Linked DNA regions of Homo sapiens. The protein of the gene in region 2 purifies or fractionates together with the protein of the main gene of each other region. This does not show direct contact. Each region holds a gene or a part of one and is shown on either strand. Other genes may lie near its edges.

What was found.
Region 1: the proteins of CDK13 (region 2) and PALD1 purify together in Homo sapiens (affinity purification with mass spectrometry; 2 studies listed by BioGRID and IntAct, with this or other methods). This does not show direct contact.

What each region holds. Positions count from the first base shown.
Region 1 is NC_000010.11:70,541,267-70,544,916, reverse strand, and holds part of PALD1 (paladin), read right to left. Parts: intron 3,455-3,650; coding exon 3,383-3,454; intron 1-3,382.
Region 2 is NC_000007.14:40,093,256-40,096,817, forward strand, and holds part of CDK13 (cyclin-dependent kinase 13), read left to right. Parts: intron 1-874; coding exon 875-1,725; 3' UTR 1,726-3,562. UniProt on the Homo sapiens protein: Cyclin-dependent kinase which displays CTD kinase activity and is required for RNA splicing.

The DNA.
Region 1 (3,650 bases), on a different chromosome or scaffold from region 2:
TGCTGGGCACCCCAGCAGGCATGGAGTTGCAACCAAGTGGGAGGAGAAAAAGGAACAGTCTGGAAGGAACTAGTGGCAGATCTGGCTCAGGCTGTGCCCAGGGGAGTAGGAGGGAGCTGTCCAGTCCACATCCCCAATCCCAAGCTCTAGGCAGGTCCCCAGGAGGGTGCAGGGAACTGCGTCCTCTGGGGGCCACCTCAGACAGAGGGCTGCAGCTCTTCACAGGGAACCCAACTCCTGGCCTCTGCTGCAGCTGTTCCTCCCCTGAATTCCACATCGACAGCTGTCACTACTGCAAAGCCAGAAACTCGAGGTCATCCTAGGTGCCCTCCTCACCCCACATCCAGGAGCCCTCAAGACCTACCAATGAGGACTGGGCTGCTCCTGCTCACCCTGCAGCCCCTCCTCACTCAGCTCCTGCCTCTCCCTCCACTCCCCAGTCCACATATAACTGCCTGCTGGGGCCCCCAGACTGAGAGCCTGATCACAACCTCCTCTGCCTCCCTCCTGGCCTCACGGTCAAGGTCAAACACATAGTGCAAACCTCCAGGGCCTTCACAATATGGGCCCCCACCCCTCAGTCCTGCCTGCTTCCCTTCTGACAAATCACAGCCTTACATAGTTCCTGCCCTTTCCAGAATCCCTCCTTTGCACACTTGATCCCTCCAGACACTCCCCTCCTCACCAAGGATACTCACTCATCTTCCCCAAAGGCACTCAAATGCTGCCTCCTCTATGAAGTCCTCTCAGGCTCCCTCAGCTGCACTCTTGGCCCTTAGAACCAGTGTCTGCTCTGGGCCTCTTCACGCTCTATTGATCCTTTCTCCCCAACAGACTGTGGGCTCAGCAAATGCTGAACTAATTGCAAAGGAAGCTGGTCTAGATTATCTGGGGGTGGGTGAGGATAGGGTGTACAGGGGTGTCTTCAGGTCATATGATGTAACTTTGGAACACAGGCTCTGAGGTCTACAGCCTGGCTTATACCCCAGCCCCACCTCTCTGATGTGGCCCTAGGGTAATAAACTTGTCTCCCCAGGCCTCATTTTCTCATCTATAAACTGGGAGCAGTAAAAGCACCTACCTCCTGGGAGCTGGGAAAGGGGACAGAGGGAGTACACACAGCTCCCAGCACGGGGCCTGGTGTGAAGAAGGAGAGGCCTGACCATCACATTCAAGGCACCGATGCAAAGACTAAACTCAGCTGGAAAATAAAACCCTTATACATATGGTCAACTGGCTTTCAACAAGGGTGCCAAGACCCTTCAATGGGGAAAGACAGACTCTTGAACTAACGGTGCTGGAAAAACCAGATATCCACATGCAAAAGAATAAACTTAGATAACCCTCACCTCACACCATATAAAAAAAACTAACTCAAAATGGATCAAAGACCTAAACCTAAGAGTTAAAAACTATAAAAGTCTTAGGATAAAACACAAGGGAGAAGCTTCATGACATTGGAGTTGGCAATGATTTCTTGGATATAGCACCAAGGGCACAGGCAACAAAAGAAAAAACAGACAAACTACATCAAAATTAAAAACTTTTGTGCATCAAATGACACTATCAATGAGTAAAAAGTCAGCCCACAGAATAGAGAACATATTTACATATCACCTCTCTTATAAGTGATTAGTTTCCAGAATATATAAAGAACCAAAACTCAACAACAATCCAATTCAAAAATGGACAAAGGACTTGAACAGACATTTCTCCAAAGAAGATATACAAGTGGCCAATAAACACATAAAAAGATATTGAACATCACTAATCATTAGAGAAATGCAAATCAAAGCCACAATATACCACTTCATACCCAGCAGGATGGCTATTATCCAAAAAAAAAAAAAAAAAACGGCTGGGCACAGTGGCTCCCAGCACTTTGGGAGGCCGAGGCGGGTGGATCATCTGAGGTCAGGAGTTCGAGACCAGCCTGGCCAACACGGTGAACTCCCATCTCTAAAAAAAACAGAAAAAAGAAATCAAGTGTTGGTGAGGATGTGGAAATATCAGAACCTTTGTGTGTTGCTGGTGGGAATGTAAAATGGTGCATATACTGCGGCAAACAGCATGGTGGTTCCTCAAAAAAGTAAACAGAATTACGATAGGATCCAGCAATTCCACTCCTGAGTATATGCCCAAAAGAACTGAAAGCAGGGACTCAGCTACGTGCACTATGCATTTCATAGCAGCATTACTCATGACAGCCAAAAGGTGGAAGCAAATAGTGTCCCTTGATGGAGGAATGGAGAAACAAAATGTGGTCTATCCATACAATGGGATATTATTCAGCCTCTAAAAGGAAAGAAATTCTGACACATATTACAATGTGGGTAAACCTTGAGAACATTATGCTCAGTGAAATAAACTAGTCATAAAACACAAATACTGTACGATTCCACTCATAGAAGATTCCTAGAGTAGTCACATCCATTGAGACAGAAAGTAGAACAGGGGCTGCTGGGAGGGAGGATGGGGAATCATTACTGAATAGGAGAGCAGAGTTCTGTTTTGCAAGATGAAGGAGTTAGATGGGTTGTGGCAACAGTTGCACAACAACGTGAATGTACTTAACACCACTGAACTGTACATTTAAAAATGGTTGAAATGGTACATTTTATGTTATGCATATTTTACCACATAAAGAAAAGGAAAAAGGAAAGAATCAGAGAATCAGCCAGAAGAAGGAAGGGAGAAGGCACCGCATATGCAAAGGCTGCAAGAGCTTAGCAAGTGTGAGGTGCTGCATGGCGGTCAGGGCCTCAGGACTGGGGCGAGGGCAGGGGAGGGGCAAGTGGCGAAGTTAACCAGTAAGACACGAGCCAACTGTGCTGCTGACTGTGGGTCAGCCATGGGCCAACTCCGAGGGACGTTGCCACGACTCTCGGGATGCCTGAGAAGATGGCCTGTGGCATGTGGCAGGTGCACAATACATGGATGACTAAATCTGGAATGTTTGTGGCTGGCCATCCAGTGCCCTAATCTGAAATAGAGGAACAGGCAGGGCAAAGTAGGCTGGGGACCCACACAAGGTCACCAACCACAGCTGGGTTGAAGGTGCTGGGAGGTTGTTATCAACATTACCCAGACAAGACGGTGGCCAGTGACCTCCCCAAGGCACACAGCAGCCCAACAGCAAGGCCGGGCAGGGAGGGGTCCAGCCCACATCTCCATAGCCGGCCGTCTGCCAGGGCCTCAGAGCCAAGCTGTCCCATGCCTTGCTGGGCTCATCTATAAAATGGGAACAGGGAAGCACTGATATGATGAGGTGGCAGACGTGACTGCATTGGGACGTGCTTTGAGGACCCCTAGACCGGCAAGCAGGAGTCCTCCTCCTCCTCCCATCCCAAGGTGCCTCAGGGACCCCGCAGGGCATGCTCACCTGAAATTCACCCTTAGTGAACTTGGCATCAGGCACACTCACGAGCTCCTCCTCACCCACCTCGGGGAAGCCCTGAGGGAAGACAGCTGCTGAGACAGAAGCCCCCTCCCAACGCCAGGAGCCCCTTGCTGGGGAGGACTTGGGGGCTGCCCAAGACTGATGGAAGGGGCTCTGGGACCACACCCGGCTGTCTCTGCCCCTCACACCCTCCTGTGGAGCCAGTGTGCCTGGGACCTGAGTGTCTACCCTCCTCCAGGCAAATCTCTAA
Region 2 (3,562 bases):
GACCACTAACACAGCTGCATTACATTGTCTACTCAGTGTTGCTGACTATATATAATGTGTATAGTTCAGTGACATTGCCAAAAGATGTCCTGAAGAATCTCAGGTAACTGGCAATAGGTTGGTTTTTCAGTCTGTTTACTTCCAGGAATGGATTCTTTAACAAATTATCCATGTGAGATAGAACTCATTGTGAATGATAAAGATATTTCTAAGGTAAACCTATGGTTAAGAAATAATATTTAACTCCAAATACGAAAGGATGCTTGACTAAGGCATAATTTATGTACACAGTAGCTTTTGTTCCTCAAGCAATGAAGTATACGTGAATTCTGCACCTAGCCGTAATTAGCTTTAAAAAGCCAATTACGGCTGGGTGCAGTGGCTCACACCTGTAATCCCAGCACTTTGAGAAGCTGAAGTGGGAAGATTGCCTGAACCCAGGAATTCAGTACCTATCTGTGCAACATAGTGAGACCCTGTCTCTAAAACAATTTTTTTTAATTAACTGGGCATGGTAGCACATGCCTGTGATTCCAGCTACTTGGAAGGCTGAGGTGGGTGGATCACTTGAGCCCAGGAGGTCAAGGCTGCAGTGAGCTGTGATCACTCCACTGCACTCCAGTCTGGGTGACAGAGTGAGACCGTGTCACCAAAAAAAAAAAAAAAAATTTTTTTTTTTTTAAAGAGAAGCCATATACAGTAAAATTTACCAGTTACCATAGTACTTGTAAACTTTTTGCTTTTTTCATTTAACATTTTGCCAGAGATGGAACTTCTAATCATCTTTAGAACTACCTACAGGAAACACTGAGTATTTTGAATATTTAGTTTTCCATGGTAACTTTTGACCTTGTTTTTGCTCTGTTTCACTTAGGACAAGATGACCTCATCCAGCATCAAGATATGAGGATCTTGGAGCTAACGCCAGAACCAGACCGGCCTCGAATTCTGCCTCCTGACCAACGACCTCCCGAGCCTCCTGAACCACCACCAGTCACTGAGGAAGATCTAGATTATCGGACAGAAAACCAGCATGTACCCACCACCAGTTCTTCATTAACTGACCCTCATGCCGGAGTGAAGGCAGCCCTGTTACAGCTGCTTGCTCAGCATCAGCCCCAGGATGACCCCAAAAGAGAAGGTGGGATTGATTATCAAGCAGGAGACACTTACGTGTCCACTTCAGACTACAAGGACAACTTTGGATCCTCTTCTTTCTCTTCTGCTCCTTATGTTAGCAATGATGGTCTAGGAAGCAGTTCTGCTCCACCACTAGAACGACGTAGTTTCATTGGAAATTCAGATATTCAGTCTTTGGATAACTACAGTACTGCTTCATCTCATTCTGGTGGTCCACCTCAGCCTTCTGCCTTTTCTGAGTCATTTCCCAGTTCAGTAGCTGGATATGGAGACATTTACCTCAATGCTGGTCCCATGTTGTTTAGTGGAGACAAGGACCATAGATTTGAATATAGCCATGGTCCTATTGCAGTCCTGGCAAACAGCAGTGACCCTTCCACGGGGCCAGAGAGTACTCATCCTTTGCCAGCAAAGATGCACAACTATAACTATGGTGGTAACTTACAGGAAAATCCGAGTGGCCCCAGCCTCATGCATGGACAGACCTGGACTTCTCCTGCCCAAGGACCTGGATATTCACAAGGATACAGGGGACATATTAGCACATCAACTGGCAGAGGCAGAGGCAGAGGGTTACCATACTGAGTATCTGTTTTTCCTCAGGCACATCATTTTTATCTGGAAAGACTTTTCTAGCTGCAATTTAAGGCAGCAATCCAAGAGACTTGAATAATAATAATTCAACAACAGCTTTATTTTTATGTGGAGAAGGGTCTTGCATACAATAGTTTAAAAAAGACAAAAAAAACCTTTGCTTAAATTCATGCTGTTCTAAAAACTAGATCGATTGTACATCTTCACAAATTCTAGTTAACAATTTTATTTTGTATTCTTGCAGTTTTAAGTGGATGCTAATTTTAGGGGCATAAGCCTTTTATGGCCCTCTTGCAGATCTTCTGAACTATGCACATTTGTGCTTTTTTTGTAAGTTTGGACCAACTTTTATGTAACAAACAGCCCCTCCCCACCTCCAGTTTTACAACAATCAGAAAGGGCACTGATTTATTTGGTATTTTTCTTTTTACAAAGCTACCTTTAGTCAAAGGTCACTGTCAGTCTTTGCACCTGCTTTCAGTGTTATTGTGAAAGGTGTACTTTGTGCTCATTTCAGAAAATAAAACACAACCTTTCTCTTGATGCAACAGTTTTATAAAAAAAAAAATGGTCAACGTTATTTTTGTTTTGTTTTGCAGATTATCAAAGCCTAGCAAAATGCATTTAAATGAAATAGTGGGTTTTATATGAAAACTATGGGTGGGGTGGGGAGGGAAAGTAAGTGCCTTAACAGGTAAGCTTAAGGTCTGAAAAAAATAGTTAACTTTTACCCCCATTTGTCTTTTAAAGGGAATCAATGCATTAAAAAGGCAAGAAACTCTGAAGTTTCAGGGGCTGCCTGTTCAGTTCCTGTTAGGTCCATTCCCTCTGCTTGTCACACTTTCTCCTTTTCTGCCTGTCTTTGGGCTGTGTTGCCTTTCACTACCACCTTCTCTTGATAGGGGAGTGAGAGCAAAGAAAGGGAGTAGAACTGCAATCAGTACATATTGTTTGAGAAGTTCTACAAAGTTTTGTCATTTAAATGGTTGAAAGTAATAGCTCCAGGAGAATTTTAGAGTACCATTTTCTTTCAGGCTGCCATATTATCCCTGTTTCCATTTGCCATGGATAATTGGAGGGTCATGGTATAGAAGCAAGAGTTAATAACAGAACTTGCCTAAATGTGTTAAAGTTCATGGGGGAGGGGTGGCAAATACCGTATTTTAAGTTATGCAATTGCCCTTTTAAGAAAGTCAATTCTATTCACTTGTTAACTAGAAACATTGCTTAGATTGAATTTATTGAAGCAAAAAGAAAAGGCAATGAGAGAGAACTTTTATCTTCCTTCCTGTCACATTCTGTAAAGTTGATTATGACTTCTGCCAGACTTAGAGCAACAACTTTAGTTCATTTTAACATTTTTTTTTAATGAAGAGCATCAAAGAATGGAGTAGTCCTTATTTAAACTGTAATGGTGTCAAGTCTCACTGTGTGCACACTCTCACACATACACACACAATTATACTAATTCTAGAAAGGAACCAAAGGTAAATAACCAGTGTTTCCATTATCACTAAATGGAAAAATTGACTGGAAGTTAGAGTTGTGCCAATTAATCATTTTGTTCATCAACTGTTCTGGTAACTTATTTTTTTTTATTGGAATCTTAAATTGGAACAACTGTTACAGAATGTATATTGCTCCAGTTCTAAAGCCAGTTAACCCTGTGCCCTCTAACTTATGAACCTTCATTTCAAAACAGTATGTGGGAAGTCCTGTAGTTTGATAAGAGTAAAATTATTTTAAAGAGGATAATTTACCATTTTACTACTATAAAATAAGTTGATATCAGTTGACCATTTTATTTTTTGATGGACTCTTTTTGTTG